Linked DNA regions of Homo sapiens: region 1 is linked to region 2. The links come from fine-mapping of genetic effects on gene expression. A gene starts in region 2. The other region holds a variant in brackets. All regions are shown on one strand. Distances are between the middles of the regions.

The links. PIP is the estimated chance that this variant, and not a neighbour inherited with it, causes the effect.
Region 1: its variant is fine-mapped to the expression of PELP1-DT in subcutaneous fat (GTEx, PIP 0.98).

What each region holds. Positions count from the first base shown.
Region 1 is chr17:4,643,526-4,660,740 of GRCh38, forward strand. LOC105371499 (a long non-coding RNA gene) reads left to right here and starts at 1,484. Exons shown (of 3, transcript XR_001752768.2): 1 at 1,484-2,474; 2 at 3,425-3,505. RefSeq lists silencers at 4,589-4,883, 6,059-6,274 and enhancers at 13,369-13,538, 14,594-14,763, 16,703-16,872. The variant C/T (reference allele first, on the strand shown) is at 4,742.
Region 2 is chr17:4,699,629-4,707,908 of GRCh38, forward strand. PELP1-DT (PELP1 divergent transcript) reads left to right here and starts at 4,602. Exons shown (of 2, transcript NR_103482.1): 1 at 4,602-4,742; 2 at 5,571-5,901. It overlaps PELP1 (proline, glutamate and leucine rich protein 1), which reads right to left and starts at 4,509. Exons shown (of 17, transcript NM_014389.3): 1 at 4,235-4,509. The coding sequence starts at 4,483. It also overlaps the pseudogene RPS12P29.

The sequences.
Region 1 (17,215 bases), 52 kb before region 2:
CAGAGTAGCTGGGATTACAGGCACCCACCAACATGCCCGGCTACTTTTTGTATTTTCAGTCGAGATGGGGTTTCACCATGTTGGCCAGGCTGGTCTTGAACTCCTGACCTCAAGTGATCCACCTGCCTCGGCCTCCCCAAGTGCTGGGATTACAGCCATGAGCCATCATGTCCGGCCCTGCTTAATTGTTTACTGGGAAGTACATTCATGTGATTCAAAATTCAAAAGGTACAAAGTGATATTCACTAGTTTCTCCCTCCTCTTGGCCCCAAGCCACCCAGTTGCTCCACTCCCAGCAATCACAGTTACCAGTCTCTTCTGTGCACTAATATTACTGAGCAAATACACGCCTATCTTTGTCTTTTTCTGCACATTGTAGCATGCCTTATTCTGCATCTCGTTTTTCCATAGTGCAACAGGAGGTCATTCCATATCCATGCATAAAGAGCTTCCTTGTTCTTTGCTAAGGCTGCCATTTGCTGTAACGCCATAAATTCTACTAGTCTCTTGTAGTGGACACAGGTTATTAGTAATCTTTTGTAGCTATGAAAAAGTGCTGAAAGAAATAAACCTCGCATATACAGCATTTCTCGTATGAAAGTATCTCTGTAGAACAAAACCCTGGAGATAGAATTTCTGGACCAAAAGCATATCGAATTTAGGCAGAAACTGCTCAATTGCCCTCTGTAGAAAGTTGTACTGATTTAGACTCCCACCAGTGGACTGTGTATGAGAATGCCCATTCTTCCTCACTCTTGCCAATGGTGTGTTCATAACCTTACCTTAGCCAATCGGATAGGTGAAAAATGGTACCCTAGTTTTAATTTTAATTTGCATTACCCTTATTATGAGTAAAGTTGAGCTTTTTTTTTTTTTCTTTTTTTGAGAAGGAGTTTTGCTCTTGTCGCCCAGGCTGGAGTGCAGTGGCGCGATCTTGGCTCACTAAAACCTCTGCCTCCCGGGCTCAAGCAATTCTCCTGCCTTAGTCTCTCGAGTAGCTGGAATTACAGTCGCCTGCCACCATGCCCGGCTAATTTTTTGTATTTTTAGTAGAGATGGGTTTTCGCTATGTTGGCCAGGCTAGTCTCGAACTCCTGGCCTCATGTGATCAGCCTGCCTCAGCCTCCCAAAGTGCTGGGATTACAGGTGTGAGCCACCGTGCCCAACCAAAAGGTTTTTTTTATAAGTGAAATTCAGAAAAATCAAAATGTGGTGGGTAAAATTCATCTTCCATAGAAATGGCACAAACCCAGTAATTTTCTTGCAGATTAAAAGTGTGATTGAAGAGTTGGGAAGGCTTCCAAAAGTAATTCACAGTAACTTGTGGGTAGACTGAGTGAGGTTAGATTATGATGCAGTTGTGATGGGAGAGGAAAGACCCAGGCCATTTCTTCCCGTCTTGGATAGGGATATCTATGGTGGTTAGCCTATGCCTGTTCCAACATTGTATGTTGGGGGTGGGGTCAGATGACTTTCTCTTTAGTTTACAGGTCTTCAGAAGAAGAGGAGCCCAGGCACGGTGGCTCATGCCTGTAATCCCAGCACTTTGGGAGGTCGAGGTGGGAGAATCAGCTGAGTTCAGGAGTTCAAGACCAGCCTGACCAACATGGTGAAACCTCATCTCTACTAAAAATACAAAAAGTAGCCAGGCATGGTGGTGGACACCTGTAATCCCAGCTACTCAGGAGGCTGAGGCAGGAGAATCGCTTGAACCCCAGAGGCAGAGATTGCAGTGACCTGAGATCGTGCCACTGCACTCCAGCCTGGGCAACAGAGTGAAACTTCTTTAAAAAAGAAAAAAAAAAAGAAGAGGAGGAATTGTATTCTGGAAGTATACTTAAGGTAATACAGTTGAGAAATCTCATCTATACATGGACCTGATTTAGATGATGAAATTCTAGACTTTGAGCTGATGCTATAATGGGATTCGACTTTGGGGTAGCTTGAGAGGGAGCGAGTGTATTTTGCATGTGGAAGGAATGTAAATCACCAGAATTCAGAGGGCATGCTCGTGGTGGCCATTCTTTAAAACATCCCCCAGTGATTCCGACCTCCTGATATGCATGCCTTTCCATAGTCTCCTACATTGTGTCTGGGTTGGTCTGCAAAGCCAATGCAGTATGAAATGATGTGTGTGACTTCCAAAGCTAGGTCCTAAAAGACATTAGGGCTTTCCGTCTCCTCCCTCCCCACTCTCCCTCTTTCTTGTTCTGCTTTCTCTGAGAGAAATTAACTACTATGTCATGAGGTCACTCAAGAAACTCTATGGAGAGGTCCACGTGGCAAGGAACTGAGCCCTCCTGCTACGAGCCAGTGAGGAACTGAACCCTCCAACTACCAACCACGTGGGGCAGCCATCTTGGAAACAGATCCTCCTGCCCCGGTTAAGACTTCAGATGACTACAGCCAATCTCTTGACTGAAACCTCATAAGACTCTTGAACTAGAACCAACTGACTCCCAAAACTGTGTAAGGTAATGGGTGTTTTTTGTTTTGTTTTGTTTTTGAGACAGGGTCTTGCTCTGTCACTCAAGCTGGAGTGCAGTGGCATGGTCACAGCTGACTGTAGCCTCCACCTCCCAGGCTCAAGTGATCTTCCCACCTCAGCTTCCCAAGTAGCTGGGACCACAGGCATGTGCCATCACACCACTGAGTTTTGAGGTCGTTGTAAAGCAGAAATAGATAACTAATACGGTCTGCATGCTTATTTTCTGAATCCTCAAACTCCCAAGCTTATGTAAAGCCAAAAAATATTCAATGAACTGACCACTTTCAAAATTAGTTCACTCACCTCTTCCTCCTTTTTTTTTTTTGTGGCTTTTGTTTTTTTGTGTTTGTTTGTTTGTTTGTTTTTGACCCAGAGTCTCGCTCTGTCACCCAGGCTGGAGTGCAATGGTGCGATTTCGGCTCACTGCAACCTCCACCTCCCAGGTTCAAGCAATTCTCCTGCCTCAGTCTCCCGAGTAGCTGGGAAAACAGGCGCTTGCCGCTATGCCTGGATGATTTTTTGTATTTTTGATAGAGACAGGGTTTCACTGTGTTGCCCAGGCTGGTGTCAAACTCCTGAGCTCAGGTGATCGGCCCGCCTCGGCCTCCCAAAGTGCTGGGATTACAGGCGTGAGCCACTGCACCCGGTTCTTCCTGCTTTATTAATGCCAGCTACCTTTGTCCATCTAACTGGCTACAGAGTGAAATTTCAAGTCTTGAAACATTAGAAGACTTTGTAAAGTCCATAGAAGTACTGTTAGAAAACGGATCAGTCAGCAAAGCAACTGACAAATAATGTTGATGTTGAAAGAAGAGGCATCCACCTGAAGTGGTTCAGATGAGCTGAGCAGGGACAGGAGAGGGCCAGTCAATAAGTGACACATTGGCTGCAGTCAAAGCGACAGGCTTGGACAACGAACAAAGCTTTTCTATGCAGGTGATGTCCACTGGTCACTTATGTGTACCCTCTCTGTCCCGATATGGCTCCAGGACACTGACATCAGATGATATTTCCAAGGTAAGTGCAGAGAAGACCCTGGATGTGGACTTTGCTTCTCCATGGGCCTCCTAATGCCTGGGTTTTTGAAACTCAAAAATCCAAAACTGAGCTCAAGTGCAGTAAGCCCCAGCTGAGATTATGAAAGTACCAGGATCATAAAGATACATGTGTCCACTGGGTGCAGTGGCTCCTACCTGGAATCCCAGCACTTTTGGAGTCTGAGGCGAGAGGATCACTTGAGCTCAGGAGACCAGCCTGGGCAACATCGTGAGATTCTGTCTCTACAAAAATAAAAATTGGCCGGGTGCGGTGGCTCACGCCTGTAATCCCAGCACTTTGGGAGGCCAAGGCGGGTGGATCACCTGAGGTTGGGAGTTCGAGACCAGCCTGGCCAACATAATGAAACCCTGTCTCTAATAAAAATACAAAAATTAGCCGAGCATGGTGGTGGGCAACTATAGTCCTAGCTACTTGGGAGGCTGAGGCATGAGAATCACTTGAACCCAGGAGGCAGAGGTTGCAATGATCCGAGATCGTGGCCACTGCACTGCAGCCTAGGTGACAGAGCGAGACTCCATCTCAAAAAATAAAAACAAAAATAAAAAATATTAGCTGGGCATGATGGTGTTTGCCTGTAATCCCAGCTGTGTGGGAAGCTGAGATGCAAGGATCACTTCAGCCCAGGAGTTCGAGGCTGCAGTGAGCTATGATTGTGCCTGTGAACTCCAGCCTGGACAACAGAGGGAGACCCTGTCTCTGAAAAAACAAAATCAAAAAAATATGTTAATATCGTACTTTACAAGTATTATTTTGTCAAAGTGGTGTCGAGAATGTCAAATATTGCTTCTCAGCTGGGCGCGGTGGCTCACGCCTGGAATCCCAATGCTTTGGGAGGCTGAGGCGGATCACCTGATCAGGTCAGGAGTTCGAGACCAGCCTGGCCAACATGGTGAAACCCCATCTCTACTAAAAATACAAAAATTAGCCAGTCATGATGGTGCGCACCTGTGATCCCAGCTACTTGGGAGGCTGAGGCAGGAGAATGGCTTGAACCTGGGAGGTGGAGCTTGCAGTGAGCCGAGATTGCGCCACTGCACTCCAGCCTGGGCAACAGAGCGAGACTGTGTCTCAAAACAAAACAAAGAACATGTCACTGAAATGTAGGCCTGAGGGAAAGAAGCAAACGATCAGTGGAATTTTTTTCTGCCCAGTGTTAAAAATTGAAATTGACCTCCAAGCTGTCAATGCCTTCAA[C/T]TCTACCATTGCCCAACAATTCTCAAAAAGATACAGGGTTTGGACATCAGACTTCAGATAAACATACTCCCACAAGCAGGAGGAAAAACCACTCTGCCCGTGTGGGTTAAGGCTAGAGGAGCTTTAGATGAACAAAAGCACCAAATAATATGGAATGCAGTTTGGAAAACAAGGATCGGTTAGAGGAAGATGGTAATTTACAGAGGAGCTTCACTGGGAAAATTCAGACTTCAGAATAAGCTGAAGATCTTCCTGAATTCACACAAGAGAGGGAGAGGGTATCTTCTACCTTAGAAAATAAAATAAAACAGAGTTGTTCCTGGAGGAACCACCTTAGATTTTGGAGCAGAAATTGATGTGAATCTGGCTCAGCCTCTAAGGGCAAATTCTCAACAATCAAGATGTCAGGGAGTGGGGTTCAGTGGTCCTCCCACTTCTGATTTCCTAAGAACAAGCTGATTGGAGGCTGTTGGCGCCGAGAAGCTATAAGCAGAACTAGAAGCAGAGCAGGCTATATGATTGATTAGGGGTGCATATTTGCCTTTCTCAGTTGGTCCTAAGTGGAAGTGGAGACAGAAATGAAGAAATCTGGCAGTTATTGACCAAGCCCTTACTGTTTGAGGCCAATTGCTGTAGAGGATTTGTTTGGCTTCCTTCCAGGGCTGGTTGCTACAGAGGTTATGGGACAAAGGTCTGTGTTTATATTTGATTCTGTCCATTGTCCTTTTGTATAGTCAGTCTCTCACTAGCGATGTATGACAGTTCCAGCTGCTCTGTATTCTCACCAGTACTTGGTACTGTTTGTTTTGGATGCAAGGGATGGTTTGTGGGGGAGTGGGGAGGGATTAGCCATTCTAATAGGTATACACTGGTATGCCGTTATGGTTTTAATTTACATTTTGCTAATGACTGACTATACTGAGCATCTTTTCAAGTGTTTATTTGACATTTGTATATCTACTTTGGTGAAGTATCTATTCAAACTTGTGTGGATTTTTTTTTTTCCTCGTTGTTGAGTTTTGAGTTATTTATATATTTGTGGAGCAACTCCAGCTTGGATGCTAAGCAGCTATGTTGACTTTTTTTTTTTTTTTTTTTTGTAGAGACAGAGTCTCATTTTGTCACCCAGGCTGGAGTGCAGTGGTGCGATCTCGGCTCACCGCAACCTCTGCCTCCTGGGTTCAAGTGATTCTCCTGCCTCAGCCTCCCAAGTAGCTGGAATTACAGGGATGCACCATCACGCCCAGCTAATTTTTGTATTTTTAGTAGAGACAGGGTTCACTATGTTCACACTGAGACCAGTATGCGCCAGACTGGTCTCAAACTCCTGACGTCAAGTGATCCACCTGCCTTGGCCTCCCAAAGTGCTAGGATTCCAGGCGTGAGCTACCGTGCCCGGCCTCATGTAGACTTTTGATTAACCACAGTTCAAGGAGCCTGTAAGATTTCCAGTTTACCTATTGTTCCTTGTGTAAGAGTATGTACTTACCATAAAGCCTGCCCTTCAGCAATTGTCCTATACATCCCTTCTGAAGCATGCACCCTTTCCGTATGATATATAAGGCCTGGGTCTAGGGAGTAGTGGAGAGGGGATCCACGATCTTGTCTCACCACCACCTGAGACACAGATGTGGCTTCTGTTCCTAAGTTTCTATTAAATGTTTCTGAGAAACTAGATATGTCAGCCTCTTTCTTCGGCCTCTCAGCTTCCTCAGACTTTTGCAGATAGGTTTGCGTAAGTCTGCCCAGCGTGGAGCAATATTTTAGATATTAAGTCCTTTTTTATTTATTTATTTTTATTTTTTTTTTGAGATGGAGTCTCACTCTATTACCCAGGCTGGAGTGCAGTGACGCAATCTCGGCTCACCGCAATCTCCACCTCCCCGGTTCAAGCGATTCTCTTGCCTTAGCCTCCCAAGTAGCTGGAATTACACGCATGTGCCACCATGCCCCGGCTAATTTTTGCATTTTTAGTGGAGGCAGGGTTTCACCATGTTAGCCAGGCTGGTGGTCTTGAACTCTTGACCTCAGGTGATGCGCCCTCCTCGGCCTCCCAAAGTGCTGGGATTACAGATGTGAGCCACTGCGTCCCGCCAGATATTATGTCCTTTGAAAGACGTGTGATTTACAAACATTTTCTCCCCACAAGCAGCATCTCAGAGTGAAGATGCCTTTTTATCTCTTAGCAGTGTCTTTAGCAGAGTAGTTTTGAATTATGATGAAGTACAATTCATCAATTTTTTTCATTAAGGATTGTGTTTTGCCTATGCCTAACAAAAGACCATAAAGATTCTCTCCTGTTTTCTCTAGAAAGTTTATGATTTCACACTTTATATTTAAGTCTGTGATCCATTGAGTTAAATTTTGTATGAGGTATGAAGAATGGGTCAAGTTCATTTTTTGCATATGAATATTCATATGCAAATATCATTCCAGCACCATTTCTTGATTCCTCCATTGAATTGCCTTTGCATCCTTGCCAAAAATCACTTCACCACACCTATGCCTATGTTTGGGCTATTTTTCTCCATGATCTACGTGCTTATCATTCCACCAATACTACACTGACTTGATGACTGTAGCTTTATAAGTATTGAAATCAGGTAGTACTAGTCTTGAAACATCGTTCTTCATTTCCAAAACTATTTTAGATATTCCATTACCTTAGCCTTTTGCTATAAATTTTGCAATCTGCTTATTGATATTGATAAAAATTATTAGCATAAATTCCTACTGTATTTTTGGCCGGGTGCAGTGGCTCACGTCTGTAATACCAGCACTTTGGGAGACTGAGGCATGAAGGTGACTTAACCCCAGGAGTTCGAGACCAGCCTGGCCAACATGGTGAAACTCCGTCTCTACTAAAAATATAAAAATTAGCTGGGCATGGTGGCGGGCACCTGTAATCCGAGCTACTCAGGAGCTGAAGCAGGAGGATTGCTTGAACCCAGAAGGCGGAGGTTGCAGTGAGCCAAGATCATGCCATTGTACTCCAGCCTGGACAACAGAGTGAGACTCTGTCTTAAAATAAATAATTAAAATCCTTTTTTTTAAAATTGGGATTGCATTGAATCTATATATATATATATATATATATATATATTTTTTTTTTTTTTTTTTTTTTTGAGACAGAGTTTCGCTCTTGTTGCCCAGGCTGGAGTGCAATGTCGCAATCTTGGCTCACTGCAACCTCCATCTCCCAAGTTCAAGTGATTCTCCTGCCTCAGCCTCCCAAGTAGCTGGGATTACAGGCATGCACCACCACACCTGGCTAATTTTTGTCTTTTTAGTAGAGACGGGGTTTCACCATGTTGGCCAGGATGGTCTCGATCTCTTGACCTCGTGATCCGCCCACCTCAGCCTCCCAAAGTGCTGGGATTACAGGCGTGAGCCACTGCGCCTGGCCGTGACTTCTGAGACTAGGTCAAATGCCATGCAATTCCTTTCACTTTGCTGCCTTGGGATCACTCTTGCTAACTCTGTGAGTGAGCCTTTGCTCACTCTTGGAACGGTCACCATGCTGTGAGGAAACCCAGGTGGCATGGAGAGACCATGTGTGGATGTCCCAGCCGACAGCCCTAACTCTAGATCCAGGTAAAAAGCCAGTACTGACCACCAGTATGACTTAGGAAGTCTTCCAGATGACTCCAGCCTCAGCCACTGTCTAACTACAACCACATGAAAGTCTCCAAGTAAGGATAATTTAGCTGAGCCCCTGTCAATTGTCAAAACTCTAAACGCTAATAGTAAAATAATGATTGATGTCTTCAGTCGTCATTTTGGAGTGATTCATTATGCAATAACTGGAACAGACATGCAGAAGTCAAAGACAAAGTAGAAGAAGGCCTGGAGAGATGAACTAAGTCACTCCTTGTCTCAAGAAGTGTTGGCCAGGCGCAGTGGCTCATGTCTATAATCCCAGCAGTTTGGGAGGCCAAGGCGGGTGGATCACCTGAGGTCAGGAGTTTGAGACCAGCCTGGACAACATGGTGAAACCCTGTCTCTATGAAAAAACTAAAAATACAAAAATTAGCTGGGAGTAGTGGTGCACACCTGTAGTCCCACCAACCGGAGAGGCTGAGACAGGAGAATTGCTTGAACCCGGGAGGTGGAGGTTGCAGTGAGCCCAGATCACACCACTGCACTCCAGCCTGGGCGACAGAGCGAGACTCCATCTGAAAAAACAAAACAAAGTGTTGGCGGAAACCACAGGCCCCCTTGCCTTACAGGAGACAGAAGCCTAGGGGATAAGGCATACCAGCTGCAAACAGGGCAGACATCCACCCAGTGGCACTCCACTTTGTGGATGCCAAGAGATGTGTGGTGGCCGGGCATAGTGGCTCAAGCCTGTAATCCCAGCACTTTGGGAGGCCAAGGCGGGTGGATCATGAGGTCAGGAGATCAAGACCATCCTGGCTAACACGGTGAAACCCCGTCTCTACTAAAATTACAAAAAAATCAGCCAGGCGTGGTGGCAGGCACCTGCAGTCCCAGCTACTCGGGAGGCTGAGGCAGGACAATGGCATGAACCCGGGAGGCGGAGCTTACAGTGAGCTGAGATTGCAGGAAAAAAAAAAAAAAAAAACAAACAAACATGTGTGGAGCCCACTAGCTGAATCTAGTGTGAAAAAACAAACAAAAAACAGGCAGGATATACCAATAGCTCTCCAGGTCATCCTTTAACTGATTATTTTCCAGCCCCACCCAACATCAATTAGCCATATGTACTGATGGAAGTCATGTAGGTCGAGCACAGGAGACATCACAGAGAAAAGAGTGAGGAAATTTAACCAGTTGCTAAACAACCAGAAGGAACCAGGAAATAATCCCCCAAAAAAGGGCCTTAGGGAAGGATCCTGTCCAACCAACCCTTTTGGAGGAAATGAGAGGAGTACTGGGCTTAATCATTGGCTGTAAGATGACGATGACTCCAGCCTTGGTCTAAATACACTGTCCATCATCTGGGTGAAGCGGAGGAAGACGACGTGAGTTCAAGAACTCCAGAATTCTTATTAAATCCCAAGTCTTTGATGTGGAAATAAAGTTTAGGAAATGGTTATGAAAGAAAAATGCCTTGTAGAAAACTTCTGAATAATTTTAAATTAAGAGGAACAGTGGTTGAACTAGGTAAATCAAGAAGTATGAGTACATTTATGTTTACAGAAATAAAGATTGACTAAAATATGAAATACCACAAAGCCAAAGAATGCAAGTAGGACAAATTTTGATTTTATCTTCGTCTTGAAATAAATTAAACATGGAAAATTCAATGAATTAGATTTCTTTTCTGTCTGACTCTAATGAATAAAACCCATGTGTGTTATGTATGTGTAATGTGTGTATGTGTGTGTGTGTGTGTGTGTGTGTGTTTTCAGTTCTATTCAGGACATAAGTCAAGCTATTAAAAACAAATATTTACAATATTGGCTCAAACTGTGCCTGTTTTCAGAATGAAGTTATCAGGATTTTGGTCATTTGGAAGTAATAAGGTTATACTTGGCTATAATGTATTAAAAGCATTGCTGAGAGACTTGGAAAGAAATAAGGTTTTTTGGAAACCTCAGAACCTGAGAAAAGAGTTGGCAACTGGAAGATTTTCTAGTGAAATTCCAAGTGATATGGTGTCATTTGAAAATGATACTTAATCCTGCAAACAATTTACATGGAATTAGTTGTTTTCAGTTCAGCTGCTTCACTTTGAACTTAAAAGTGAAAGATAGGCCGGGCGTGGTGGCTCACACCTGTAATCCCAGCACTTTGGAAGGCTGAGGCGGGTAGCTCACCTGAGGTCAGGAGTTCGAGACCAGCCTGGCCAGCATGGTGAAACCCCCGTCTCTACTAAAAATACGAAAATTAACTGGACATGGTGACACATACCTGTAGTCACAGCTACTCAGGAGGCAGAGGTGAGAGAATTGCTTGAACCCGGAAGACGGAAGTTGCGTGAGCCGAGATCGTGCCATTGCACTCCAGCCTGGGCGACGGAGGGAGACTGTCTCAAAAAAAAAAAAAAAAAAGGATGTAGTAAGAAGCTTTGACCACCCAAACCCACCCATGACTTGTGAATGTGTGTGCAATTTCGGAAACACCTGAGATTCAATATAAGGTAAACTGGGCCATAGATACCGCAGTAAGATTAAGAAAAACAAAATACTTGTAAATGTTCTAACTGAAATGTTGAACTGAAGACAGAGTATTTAACATAAAGAGGAGGCTAAAGAGCAAGAGTGTACCAGGTCAAACTGTCACCAGGATATCTGACAAATGTCGCTACCTGAAATGCCTGTGAAGAGACAGACGGGGAAGAGCCTTTGCAACTCTCTCCTTGGGGCAAACGGTAGGCTGTGGCTCAAAGATGAGTCAAGGAATAGGGTTGTGTGGAAGTCCCTACAGTCTGCCTCAAGCACAGAACACACAGTACATAAAATAAACACACGGAAGATTGGCCTCTGCCATTTTTTATTCCCAAGGTGATACATCCATCCATTCCACCCTATGCCTGAGAAAGCTGGCCTCAGCAACCAGGGTGAGAACACTACCTCTCAGTCCAAAGAGATACTGCAGACGGTCCTGATTAAAAAAAAAAAAAAAAAAAAAAAAAAAATGGGGGAGGGGAGAGAAGGGGAGGGGAGGGGGCACAGTGGCTCACACCTGTAATCTCAGCACACTGGGAGGCCGAGGCAGGTGGATCACCTGAGGTCGAGGGTTCGAGACCAGCCTCACCAACATGGAGAAACCCCGTATCTACTAAAAATACAAAATTAGTTGGGCATGGTGGTCCATGCCGGTAATTCCAGCTACTCATGAAGGCTGACGCAGGAGAATCACTTGAACCTGGGAGGCAGAGATTGTGGTGAGCCGAAATCACGACATTGCACTCCAGCCTGGGCAACAAGAGCAAAACTCCGTCTCCAAAAAAAAAAAAAAAAAAAAAAAAAAAAAAAAAAAAGCCAGACGCCGTGGCTCATGCCCATAATCCCAGCCCTTGGGAGGCCAAGGCAGGCAGATCACCCGAGGTCAGGAGTTCCAGACCAGCCTGCTCAACATGGTGAAACCCCGTCTCTACTAAAAATACAAAAATTAGCTGGGCGTACTGCCACGCACCTGTAATCCCAGCTACTGGAAAGGCTGAGGCAGGAGAATCGCTTGAACCTGGGAGGCGGAGGTTGCAGTGAGCCAAGATTGCGCCATTGCACTCCAGCCTGGGCAACAGAGTAAGACTTCATCTCAAAAAAAAAATTGTTTTAAATATATAAACTCGTAAGAAAAAAGACAGTAGGAGAGATTACAACTGCAGATGAGATTTAACAGATTTTGTCACCTGGAAGCAGCCAGGTGATAACCGACTTAACAGATTAGAAAATGATGAGAACGGTGGGCCCAAAATTGGTGGATTCTTGGGCTCACCGACTTCAAGCATGAAACCGCGGACCCTCGCAATGAGTGTAGCAATTCTTAAAGGCAGCGTGTCCGGAGTTCGTTCCTTCTAATGTTTGGACGTGTTGGGAGTTTTTTTCCTTCTGGTGGGTTGGTGGTCTCGCTGGCTCAGGAGTGAAGTTACAGACCTTCGCGGTGTTACAGCTCTTAAGGCAGCGCGTCTGGAGGAGTTGTTCCTCCTGGTCTCGCGGTTCAGGAGTGAACCTGCAGACCTTCGCGGTGAGCGTTACAGCTCATAAAAGCAGTGTAGACCCAAACAGCGACCAGACTTACTACAAACAGCACAAACAAACAAACAAAAAATACAAAGAACAAAACAAAAAAACAACACGCACACACGTGTTCCAGCTTGTTGTTTCTGCGACCTCGGGCAGCCTGCTTTTATTCTCTTATCTGGCCCCACCCACATACTGCTGATTGGTCCATCTTACAGAGAGCTGACTGGTCCGTTTTACAGAGAGCTGATTGGTCTGTTTTCACAGGGTGCTGATTGGTGCATTTACAATCCCTGAGCTAGACACAAAAGTTCTCTATGTCCCCACTAGACTAGCTAGATACGGAGTGTGGACACAAAGGTTCTCCAAGTCCCCACCAGAGTAGCTAGATACAGAGTGGATTGGTGCATTCACAAACCCTGAGCTAGACACAGGGTGCTGATTGGTGTGTTTACAAACCTTGAGCTAGATACAGAGTGCCGATTGGTGTATTTACAATCCCTTAGCTAGACATAAAGGTTCTCCAAGTCCCCACCAGACTCAGGAGCCCACCTGGCTTCACCCACCCGGTGGGTGGGTCCCGCAGCAGGCCGCACGTGGAGCTGCCTGCCAGTCCCGCGCCATGCGCCCGCACTCCTCAGCTCTTGGGTGGTCGATTGGACTGGGCGCCTTGGAGCAGGGGGCAGCGCTCGTCGGGGAGGCTCGGGCCGCACAGGAGCCCACGGAGCGGGGGTGGGGAGGCTCAGGCACGGCAGGCTGCAGGTCCCGAGCCCTGCCCCACGGGAAGGCAGCTAAGGCCCGGCGAGAAATTGAGCACAGCAGCTGCTGGCCCAGGTACTAAGCCCCTCACTGCCCGGGCCGGGGGCGCCGGCCAGCCGCTCCGAGTGCGGGGTCCGCCGAGCCCACGCCCACCCGGAACTCACGCTGGCCAGCAAGCACCGCGCGCAGCCCCTGTTCCCGCTCGCGCCTCTCCCTCCACACCTCCCCGCAAGCTGAGGGTGCCGGCTCCGGCCTTGGCCAGCGCAGAAAGGGGCTCCCGCAGTGCAGCGGCGGGCTGAAGGGCTTCTCAAGCAAGGCCAGAGTGGGCGCCAAGGCCGAGGAGGCGCCGAGAGCTGCCGGCACGCTGTCACCTCTCAACGAGATGTGCTGGGGGGCAGAGCTGGGGTTGTGAGACCACCAAAATGCATGCCAGTTCCTGACGCAGTGTTACCGAGTGAAAGGGCTCGCTGCCCCATGCACTAGAAGCCGATACTATGGCACCAGGTTTTTGAGAAAACGAAAGCTTGTTATCGCAGTTCGACCAACAAGGAGACAGAAGTCCAGCTCAAATCTTTCTGTGCCAGCTTTAAGGCAGTGTCTTCATTAGAAAATGTTTAAGCCGGGCGCGGTGGCTCACGCCTGTAATCCCAGCACTTTCCGAGGCCAAGGCGGGCGGATCACGAGGTCATGAGATCGAGACCATCCTGGCTAACACGGTGAAACCCCATCTCTACTAAAAAATACAAAAAAATTAGTGGTGGCAGACGCCTGTATTCCCAGCTACTCGGGAGGCTGACGCAGGAGAATGGCGTGAACCCGGCAGGCGGAGCTTGCAGTGAGCGGAGATCGCACCACTGCACTCCAGCCTGGGCGACAGAGCGAGACTCCCGTCTCAAAAAAAAAAAAAAAATGTTTAGCGGGTGGATTCTGAGATGAATAGGTGATTAGTGGAAGGGAAGGAAAGGTCTGGAAAGTCCTCGGGCCTCCACAGTGGTATCTTCATGCCTCTTCATGGGTCATAGGTGCAAATTTGGGGGGCGCTAGTGTGAAAGGTGCAGTGGAAAGGCTGTGAGGTCAGCGGGCTCATTCTGCATAGACTCCAGCTGGCCATATGGATTCCAACTGATTTCAGCCAGTTTTTTTAATCTCATAAGCAGAGGAAGTTTCAGCATTTCAGCAAGAGGTTTCTTTTCTTATCTGCCATCCTGCAAACTTAAGAATTTCTGTTAGTCATTGGTTTCTTTCTCTTTGGGGCATAGTTTCAACAGAGTCCTGAAAAAGCTCAAAAATTGAAGGCACCAATTACCTCTGAATGCACAGACATAGAGTAAGATTGGACACAGAAAATCAGCTGAAAATAGCTAAAGGCAGCAGTTAGACCCCCAGATCTCTTTCCCCAATCTGCACAGCCAGGAAATTACCTCTGCCTAATCCTGGGGGAAATATAAGATTATTTTTGGCTGGGCACGGTGGCTCACGCCTGTAATCCCAGCACTTTGGGAGGCAGAGGTGGGCTGATCACAAGGTCAGGAGTTCAAGACCAGCCTGGCCAATATGGTGGAACCCTGTTTCTACTAAAAATACAAAAATTAGGCAGGCATGGTGGCGGGCGCCTATAGTCCCAGCTACTCGGGAGGCTGAGGTAGGAGAATCACTTGAACCTAGGAGGCAGAGGTTGCAGTGAGCCAAGATCGCGCCACTGCACTCCAGCCTGGGCGACAGAGCCAGACTCCGTCTCAAAAAAAATAAAATGAAATAAAATAAAGATTATTTTCTGGGGAAACCAGGCACAGCTGAGTGTCAGGTTGCAATTCTATGCTGAAAACAACATACTGGACAGGGGGATTCCCCGCCCCCACACACCCAAGCTTCCTGGACACCAGCAGCCTGGCTTACACCCTCTGAGTCAGAGATAAGAGATCTGGGGAGACTGAGCATAACCAACAGACATGGCCTAGAGATGCTGGCATCTGGCATCCCCATCACCCCCAGCAAAGTCCTCTAGTTGAAAAGTTCCAGTAATGCACACAGTTTCCAATGAGCTCACAGGGCCTTACTTTAACTATGACAGCCAAGCACCACCAGATATTTAAGGAAAGCTCCCACTGTGAAATAAAGAGACCAGACAGAAAGGGAACTTGGAGAAAAGACAGATAAGAGCGTGCAGAGGAAAACTTTTTCAAAATATTATCGTAATGTACAAAGAGAGATAAGAGAAGATATTGCAGCCATGAAGCAAGAACAGGAACCTATTTACTACAGCAACAAAAAGAACATTCGGATTATAAGGAATCTAAACACTAAACACTTGGAAATCAAAACTTGATAGCAGAAATTAAAATTTCAAAAGAAGGATTGGAGGAAAAGTTGATGAAACATCCCAGAAAAAAAGACAAAGACATAGAAATCAAGAAAGAAAAAGTAAGTAAAATTAGAAAGTAAGTCCAAAACTCAACATCCAAACAATAGAATTTCCCGAATAAGAAAAAAATGTGAGGAAAACATTTAACATAAACAAGAAAATTTTCTAGACCTGAGGACATATTATTAGTTCCAGGTTGATACAACCCACCAAGTGCCAACAAAATGAACATAAACAGACCTGGACCCACGCATAGCACTGCACAATTTCAGAAAGCTGGGGACAAAGAGCAAAATCCTAAAAGCTTCCAGAGAGAAAAAAAAAAAAAAAAAAAAAAAACATTGCTTACATACAAAATGACAAAATGAGCCAAAACGACCTCAAACTTTTTTTTTTTTTTTTTGAGAGAAAGTCTCACTCTGTCACCCAGGCTTCAGTGCAGTGGCACACACATGGCTCACTGCAACCTCAACCTCCTGGGCTCAAGCAATCCTCCTGCCTCAGCCTCCCGAGTAACTGGGACCACAGACGTGCCCCAACATAGTCAGATAATTTTTTAAATTTTTATAGAGATAGAATCTTGCCATGTTGCCCAGACTGGTCTCGAACTCCTGTGCTCAGGCAATCCTCAGGCCTCTGCCTCCCAAGGCGCTGGGGTTATAGGCGTGAGCCACCGGGCCCATCAAATTCTTAATGGCAACATTGGAAAACAGAAGAAATGACAAAATGTCTACAGGATTTTGAGGGAAAAGAATTTCTGATCCTTGTACCTGGCCAAATTGTCAAATAAACATGATGATAAAGTTATTTTCAGAAATGCAAGGAGTAAACCCTTTTACCTCCTACACACCCGTTCTTAAGAAGCTGTTGGAGGATGTGGTCCACTGAAATAAAGAAATAAGCCAAGAAAGAGGAACGTATGGGATCCAGGAAACAGAAAGGCAAAAGGAAATTCCCAAGGATGAGGAAGAGAAGTTCAGAATAAAATAAGAGGAACAGTCAGTCCAGAGTGCAGCACGAAGTATATCTCCAAGAATAAATGACCGAATGAACGAATGAATCTTACTTTGATTAAATATAAATTATAATAAGATGCAAGGCCGGGCGCGGTGGCTCACGCCTGTAATCCCAGCACTTTGGGAGGCCGAGGCGGGTGGATCACGAGGTCAGGAGATTGAGACCATCCTGGCTAACACGGTGAAACCCCGTCTCCACTAAAAATACAAAAAATTAGCCGGGTGTGGTGGCAGGCACCTGTAGTCCCAGCTACTCAGGAGGCTGATACAGGAATCGCTTGAACCCAGGAGGCAGAGGTTGCAGTGAGCCGAGATCACACCACTGCACTCCAGCCTGGGTGACAGAGTGAGACTCCGTCTCAAAAAAATAAGGGCCTTCTGTGTTGTTACAAGAGCAACTGTATCCCCTGTTCAGCGTGACCCACAAGTTTAGGAGTCTTTTTCAGTGCCCACATTCAGTACTCTGCAGAAACTGAAGAAATAATCCAAGCAATAAAACTAAGCTGGAATTTTGTTTTCCGGGTTTTTGTTTTTGTTGCTGCTGTTGTTCTTGCATTCCAGTGGTCAAAGGCCCCACTCTTGATGAGCGTGTGGTCAGATGAGAACAGAGAGAGGACTAGTGGGATCCAACCATCTGCTAACCTGTCAATTCTGCCACAACCTGCACCTTATCTTTGCCTGACAA
Region 2 (8,280 bases):
CAGGCCAGAGTTCGCAGGCGCAATCTCGGCTCACTGCAATGTCTGCCTCCCAGGCTCAAGCAATTCTCCTGCCTCAGTCTCCTGATTAGCTGGGATTACAGGCATGCGTCACCACGCCCAGCTAATTTTTGCATTTTTAGTAAAGATGAGGTTTCGCCATGTTGGTCAGGCTGGTCTCGAACTCCTGGCATCAAATGATCTACCCATCTCAGCCTCCCAAAGTGCTGGGATTACAGATGTGAGTCACTGCACCCAGCCCTAGAGGGTGATTTTTTTTTTTTTTTTTTTTTTTGAGACAGAGTTTCACTCTATCACCCAGGCTAGAGTGCAGAGGCGCGATCTCGGCTCACTGCAACCTCTGCCCCGAGTTCAAGCGATTCTCCTGCCTCAGCCTCCTGAATGGCTGGGATTACAGGATTACAGATGCCTGCCACTGCGCCTGGCTAATTTTTGTATTTTTAATACAGACGGGGTCACCATCTTGGCCAGGCTGGTCTTAAACTCCTGACCTTGTGATCCACCCACCTTGGCCTCCCAAAGTGCTGGGATTACAGGCGTGAGCCATCACGCCTGGCCGAGGATGAAGTTTTGAGCCTGTATGCTGATGAAAATGATCCAACAAAAAGAGAGGCCAGGTGCAGTGGCTCATCCCTGTAATCCCAACATTTTGGGAGGCTGAGGCAGGAAGATTTTTTTATTTAAGTAGGAGTACACTCTAAAATACGACAAAAAGTGGCCGGATGTGGTGGCTCATGCCTGTATTCTCAGCACTTTGGGAGGTCGAGTGGGGAGGATAACTTGAGGTCAGAAGTTCGAGACCAGCCTGACCAACATGGTGAAACTCCGTCTCTACTAAAAATACAAAATTAGCTGGGTATGGTGGCAGGTGCCTGTAATCCCAGCTACTCAGGAGGCTGAGGCCTACGTAGAAGACAGAACAAGACACTGTTTTTGTCCTTCAAAAGAATATACAGGATAAATGACATTTGGGATTTGCTTTAAAATGGTCCACCAAGCTGAGCACGGTGGTTCACCTCTGTAATCCCAGGATTTTGGGGGGCCAAGGCGGGAGTATCACTTGAGTTCAGGAGTTCAAGACCAGCCTGGACAACATATAAAGCCCCCATGTCTACAAAAAAAATTTTTAAATTAGCCAGGGGTGGTGGCACACCTGTAGTCCCAGCTACTCGGGAGGCTGAGGTGGAAGGATTACTTGAACCTGGGAGGTTGAGGCCAAGGCCGCAGTGAGCCATAATCTGGCCACTGCACTCCAGCCTGAGTTAGAGTAAGGCCCTATCTCAAAAAAAAAAAAAAGAAAAGAAAAGAAAAGAAAAAGAGAAAGAAAGAAAAAGCAAAGTTCCACTAAAAAAAAAAAAAAAAAAAAAAAGCCAAGCTATGGGAGGAATGAAATAACATTGGCAAACGTTCACTGTTAAATTTGAGTGATGGGGGCAGCATAGGGTGGGGTGGGGAAAATACTATTTATGTCTGAAATTTTATATAAGTTTTATTAATTACATACAAGAACAAATCAAAGACTTGCTGAATGTAGGGGAGAGAGGTTATAAGTATATGTGAAATAAATAAACAGACAGTAGGATAAAGAGCAGTCAATCATAGGTGGCCAAGAAATATATCCCAAAGGCAGTGACAAATAAGCAAAGAATTGAGAAGACTGGGAAGGAGGATGAGAGTTGGGGGGGTGGGGGCACTGCACAGGGAGGGATTCCAAGAGAAGAGTAAGTACAAAGCCTCTGAGGAAAGAACACCCAGAGGCTGAAGGATTTTTAAAAGCTGCAAACAGGATCAGAATTTTACTTTAGAAAGCTCACTCCAGCTACTGTGTGGGGAACGGATTACAGAGGGCAAGACTGAAGGTAAGGAGACCCGTTAGAAGATTGTTGCTATAATATACTCCAAGCTAGATATGGAGCACTGTGCTAGGATCATTCCATTTTGGAACTACTGAGCTTGCAGTACCTGCGGAAAAGCCATGTTGGTAGGTGGATGATCAAACAGTGGATCCCCCTTGCTCGCAAGCTCCAGGTCTATTGCTGACTTTCATTTCTCATCTTAACTAGACTAGAAATTCTCTGAGGGAAAGGACCATGTCTTATTTATCTACCTAGAGACGAGGAACAGTACGTAAAACATAACAGATACTCAATAAATGTTTGTTGAATGAAACCTTTGGGGAAGGAAAGGAAATCCTCCACATAATCCCAATTCAAAGGACACAAGTAGAAAAAAAATTCAAGGCAGGATGTATCTAAACAAGTAGCACAGGAAATATTAAAGGGCGGCCCTAGTTTCCCACATCACTCTTAGCTTCTTTACTCAAAATTCTACTAGACTTCAGACATGTAAGAAAAATAAGCAAGACGTTAAGTTCATGTAGTTGACTTTGAGGGAGGAGAGGAAGTCCTGAAAGAGATGATGAAAGAAATCACACATTTATAGGCGGGATAGGTAATATTTCACAAATACTTATAAAAAAAATTTCTGGGGGGCAAGGCATGGTGGCCCGTGCCTGTAATTCCAGCACTTTGGGAAGCCAAGGCAAGTGAATCGCCTGAACTCGGGACTTTGAGACCAGCCTGGGCAACATGGCAAAACCCCGTCTCTACCAAAAATACAAAAATTAGCCGGGCATGGTGGCGCATGCCTGTGGTCCCAGCTACTCTGGAGGCTGAGGTGGGAGGATCCCTTGAGGCTGGGAAATGGAGGTTGCAGTGAGCCAAGATCATGCCACTGCACTCCAACCTGGGTGACAGAGTAAGACCTTGTCTCAAAAATAATAATAATTCTGGGACTATTGTGAGATAAAGAAAACAGAAAAACCCCACTGTAATATAACTGACTGATGAAAACCACATAAATTAGAAGAGGGGAATTTAGAGACAAGAGAAAATACATAATCAGCTCCAGCCTCTGATATTGGGCTGAGATAGCAGAGATATAGTTTTGTCACCCTCAATTATGCAGAGTAATGTTAAAGACAAACAGATAGGGTTATCTGTGATAAATCTGGGGCTAAGGTTATTGACCCACCCAGCAAATTGTGACAACCATCTTCCTGGAAGGTAGCATAGAGCTAGGAAGGTCCCAGGAATGAAGGGTGGACACAGAAGATCTCGTGTTTATGGGTCTTGAAGGATGGGTAGAATTTGGGGGAGGTTTAGTGGGAGAGAAGGGAAGATAGGAGATTGTTATAAGGAGCAGCTATTATGGGCTAGAAATATGCCTTCTTAGAATCAGTGCCTTCACCCGGACAAGATGGTGGGGGTTCAAGCTAGAATGGGAGCAATGAGAAAGATGGAAAAGAGTGGACAGATCTGAAAACTACTCAAAGGATAAAATCAACAGGACTTGACAGATTGCTTATGGAGGTGTATGAAGAAGAGTTTAGAATTACTTGAGTGTCTAGCTTGCAGAACTGAATGGTTATCAGATTCCATTCTTATAGAAGTCCAAAGGCTCCTAACCCGGCCTAAAACGCTCTGCATGACCCGACCACTGCCTACCCATCTCACCAGTCTCATCTGTACCCACTCTCTTCCCCTCCACATCTGAGCCCCAGGAACGATGCCCTTCTTTCCAGTTCCTTCCTACCACAGGGTCTTCCCACATGAGCTCTCCTCTGACTGAACAGCCCCTCCCATATTTTTTCCCTACCCAACCCCTATTCATCCTTAGGGTCTCAGCTTAAACGCCGGTTTCTTTGGAAAAATCTCTGCCAGTCTTCAGATAAGGTTAGAGACCCCTGATATTCAATTCTCATCTTGTTTCGCAGCATTTTGTGTATCGCCACCACGTCTGTAACCGGAGCGCCTAGTACAGTATCTGACCCTCAATAAGAGCTCGGTAAATGTTTATTGTTGAATGCGTCATTCAGTCAGTCGAAACAATCCCCGAAACAGATATTGCCAGAGGAAAAAGAGACTTTTAGATTATACAACTAGTGAGTGACCGGGCCTGGAACCTAATCGATTCCTGTGTGCCGACCAATAGCCTAACAACAGAAAAATAAGGCCCATTTTTCCCCTGGAGAAACTCATGGCCGATAAAGGAGAAATACGTGCATCCCGTCCGGACTGATACCTGGATCCCCTTTCTGCCCGCAGCTCTCCTTCCTTCAACCTCCCTATCGCACTTGCACTGCACCGTAATCCCGGCGCACAGGTGCCGCGCCATCCTCCCCACAGGGCCGCGGGCACGCGGGCCACGGACTCACCTGGGCCCCGCCCACCGACCCATGCAGCCGCAATAGGCACATGAGCCCGGGCAAATGTGGGGCCGAGCGGTTTGGGGGATGCACCGGAGCAACGGCAGACCCCGTTCGAGGTTGCAGCAAACCAGAAACACTCTCCAGCAGCAGCAGGCGGAGCCGCGGGCCCGAGCTCACTGCCGAGAGACCCCCGGTCCCGCCAGGAACCCCAGCCGCGGAGCCCGCAGAGGGCCCACTCAGAACGGCTGCCGCCATCTTCCCCCGGGTTCCAGTGGTGGCGTGGCGCGATGACGCAAACACACCGCGACGGCCGCCTACTGGGGAGGGGGCGTGGGGAGGGGGCTGCGGTCTTGCGCACTGAGTGAAGGCAGGCTGGACTCGCGGGCTCAAGCTGGGAAGGAGCATGCGCGGAGAGAGCAGCCTGGGCGCCGAGGCAGCGGGGTGCTCGGTTCCCGGAGTGATGGCGGATGAGGCTGCCTGTGAGCGTGTCCGAGGCGGTCCTGTGATGTTAAAGGTACACGTGGTCCGGACAAAAGGCGCCAAAGTCGGAACGATTTCCATTTAGCGGACGGAGTCTTGGGACATCTTCGCTGTAGGAATCAATAACTCTCATTTTTTTTTTTTGAGACGGAGTCTCGCTCTGTGGCCCAGGCTGGAGTGCAGTGGCGCGATCTCGGCTCACCGCAACCTCCACCTTCCAGGTTCAAGCGATTTCCCTGCCTCAGCCTCCCGAGTAGATGGGATTACAGTCGCGCGCCACCACGCCCGGCTAATTTTTTTTGTATTTTTGTAGAGATGGGGTTTCACCATGTTGGCCAGGATGGTCTTGAACTCCTGACCTCAGGTGTTCCGCCCGCCTTGGCCTCCCAAAGTGCTGAGATTACAGGCATGAGCCACCGCACCCTGCCTAGGAATCAGTAACGTGTGTGTGTGTGTACGCGCGCCAAAGATTTATTTCTTCATTTCTTGCATTTCAAGTACTCTTCGATGTCATCCTTGGCCTGAGACTCCTTGCCATAGTCCTTAACTACTACACAACTGCAACCAACCACTTTACGGGGTTTCCCCTCTCTGTCGATTTTTACAGAGCCCTACCCATTCTCCTAGTTTCTTGTTGTCATCAACCTTAATTAGGTTGATTTGGTGTTCAGCACAAAGGCCTCCACCAACTTGACATACATAGTAGGCTCATCATAGTTGGATGCAAGCACACAAAGATGGGCTTGGCGTTTGTCTAAGGCTTTGGCAGCTTCGCGAATTCCACGTGCTAGGTCATGGTGGATGAGAGCGGTCTTCAGCACCTCTTGTGAAGCAGTATTAACATCCATTACCCCTCCAGCAGCAATGCCTTCCTCGGCCGTGGCGGTGGGTTACAAGTGAAGCTGAATCTTGAAGGTACCCAAGCCTCCGCCTCCGCGCAACTCGGCAGCGGCAGGGAAAGAGAAGGAATCAATAACTCTCTAGGTAACTTGAAATCACAGACATTTTTAACTACATTTGCAACTTCAGAAATGATACAAGACGTGCGCCTTGCAAAAGCCAATTCAAACAGTACAGAAAGGCATAAAGTAAAAAGAAAAACTGCTCCTCCCCCGCAAAGCCCTGCCCCAGTAGCGTGTATACTTTCCTAATATTAGTCTATGCACAAGCACATAAATGAATATTTTACAAGATTGGGGTCTGCGTGTGGCTTGTTTTCACTCATGGCCTTCTTTATGCTGTTTTTTAAACTGTGGTATGAATGAAATGGGTGCACCATGATTTAATAATTCTATTGCTGAATTAATGCTTAAAGGCTGCTCCAGCTTTTTGCTAATGCAAACTGTAGTGAACACGCTAATACCTCTATGTTTATGTTTGTGTACTTTTGTGATTGTTAGATTCAAATCCAAGAGTCATCATTTTTCTTTTTTTGAGGAGTCTCTCTGTCGCCCAGGCTAGAGTGCAATGGCACGATCTCGGCTCACTGCAACCTCCGCCTCCCAAGTTCAAGTGATTCTCCTACCTCAGCCTCCCAAGTAGCTGGAAGTACAGGCACCCACCACCATGCCCAGCTAATTTTTGTATTTTTAGTAGAGACGGGGCTTCACCATGTTGGCCAGGCTGGTCTCAAACTCCTGACCTCAAGTGATCTGCCGGCCTCAGCCTCCCAAAGTCCTGGGATTACAGGTGTGAGCCACCCCACCTGGCCCGTTTTTCCTCTTATTGCCTCCTATCCAATCCTTCAAGTCCTGGCATTCAAGGCCTCCAAAATACATTAACCCAATAGCGTTAATTTTTCTCCATCTCCACTGCCGCTCCGGTCCAAATTACCATTCACTCTCACCTAGTCTATTACAAAGCCTTCGTTGCTCTCTGCTTCCCTCTTAGCACCCTGTAGTCCCTTCACACAGCAACCAAAGTGGTCTTTTCAAATGTAAACAAGTTGTTGTCACTCCTAGCTTCAACCCCTCTGTGGCTTCCAAATGTGATGAGAATGAAATCCCATCTCGTCACTGAGGCCTAAAAGAATCCACCCAATCTGACTCATACCCACCTCCCTGACCTCAACACATACCACAAGTACCCTTTTCCTTCTCTCTTCCTATTCTTGAGCCACGCTAGCCTTCTATTTTCCAGCAAAGCCCATTCTCACATCCGAACCTTTGCACATGTTGCTGATTATGCTGGAGAAACTGTCCTTTGATTCTATGTAACTAACGCCATTTTGCCATCCTGAGACGACTTCTTTTTCGGTAGCTCCCACTCCAACCCCCATCAGCCTCCATCACATTTGCCTGTTTATAATTCATGTCATTACCAGAAATTTGCTTTCTTATTAACTATCTCTTGTCTAAAATACAAACTCCATGAAAGGGCTCCTGTCTCCTACACTATGCTATTCCTATCACCTAGAACAGTGCCTGGTACATAAAAGGTGCTGAAAAAATATTTCCCCAGGCTGGAGTGCAGTGGCATGATCACAGCTCACTGCAGCCTTGACCTCCCAGCTCAAACGATCCTCCCACCTCAGCCTCCCTAGTACATGAGACTCTAGGCACTAGCCACTATATTTGGCTCATTTTTCGTTTTTCGGAGGTTTTTTGTTTTCTTTTTTCCTCGAGATGGAGTTTCGCACTGTCACCCAGGCTGGAGTGCAGTGGCGCGATCTTGGCTCACTGCAAGCTCTGCCTCCCAGGTTCAGGCCATTCTCCTGCCTCAGCCTCCCAAGTAGCTGGGACTACAGGCGCCTGCCACCATGCCGGCTAATTTTTTGTACTTTTTTGTGGAGACAGGGTTTCACCACGTTAGCCAGGATGGTCTTGATCTCCTGACCTCGTGATCCGCCCACCTCAGCCTCCCAAAGTGCTGGGATTACAGGCGTGAGCCACCACGCGCGGCCCGTTTGTTTTTGAGACGAAGTTTCACTATTCTCACTCAGGCTGGAGTATAACGGCACGATCTCAGCTCACTGCAACCTCCGTCTCCCAGGTTCAAGTGATTCTTCTGGCTCAGCCTCACGAGTAGCTGGGATTATAGGCTAAATTTCACGATGTTAGCCAGACTGGTCTCGAACTCCTGACCTCAGGTGATCCACCCCCCTCGGCCTCCCAAAGTACTGGGATTACAGGCGTGAGCCACTGCACCCAACCCCCTCTGCTTTAAAAACCAGTACTGGTTCCACATGTCCTTCTGTGGGGCCCTCCATCTCACTCCATCTGCTATACAAAATCCTCCACAGCCTGTTCCAGACTTCCCCACCAACACTACGCAACAGGACGTGCCTTGTCTCTCTCTTTGAAATGCCCTTTCTCAACTTCTGCCCAGCCAGGCGCGGTGGCTCACACCTGCAATTCCAGCACTTTGGGAGGCTGAGGCAGGTGGAACACAAGGTCAGGCGTTCGAGACCAGCTTGGCCAACATGGTGAAACCCCGTCTCTATTAAAAATACAAAAAGTAGCCAGGCATTGCAGGTGTCTGTAATACCAGATACTCACGAGGCTGAGGCACAGAATTGCTTGAACCCAAGAGGCAGGGGTTTTGTTGAGCCGAGATCCCACCACTGCACTCCA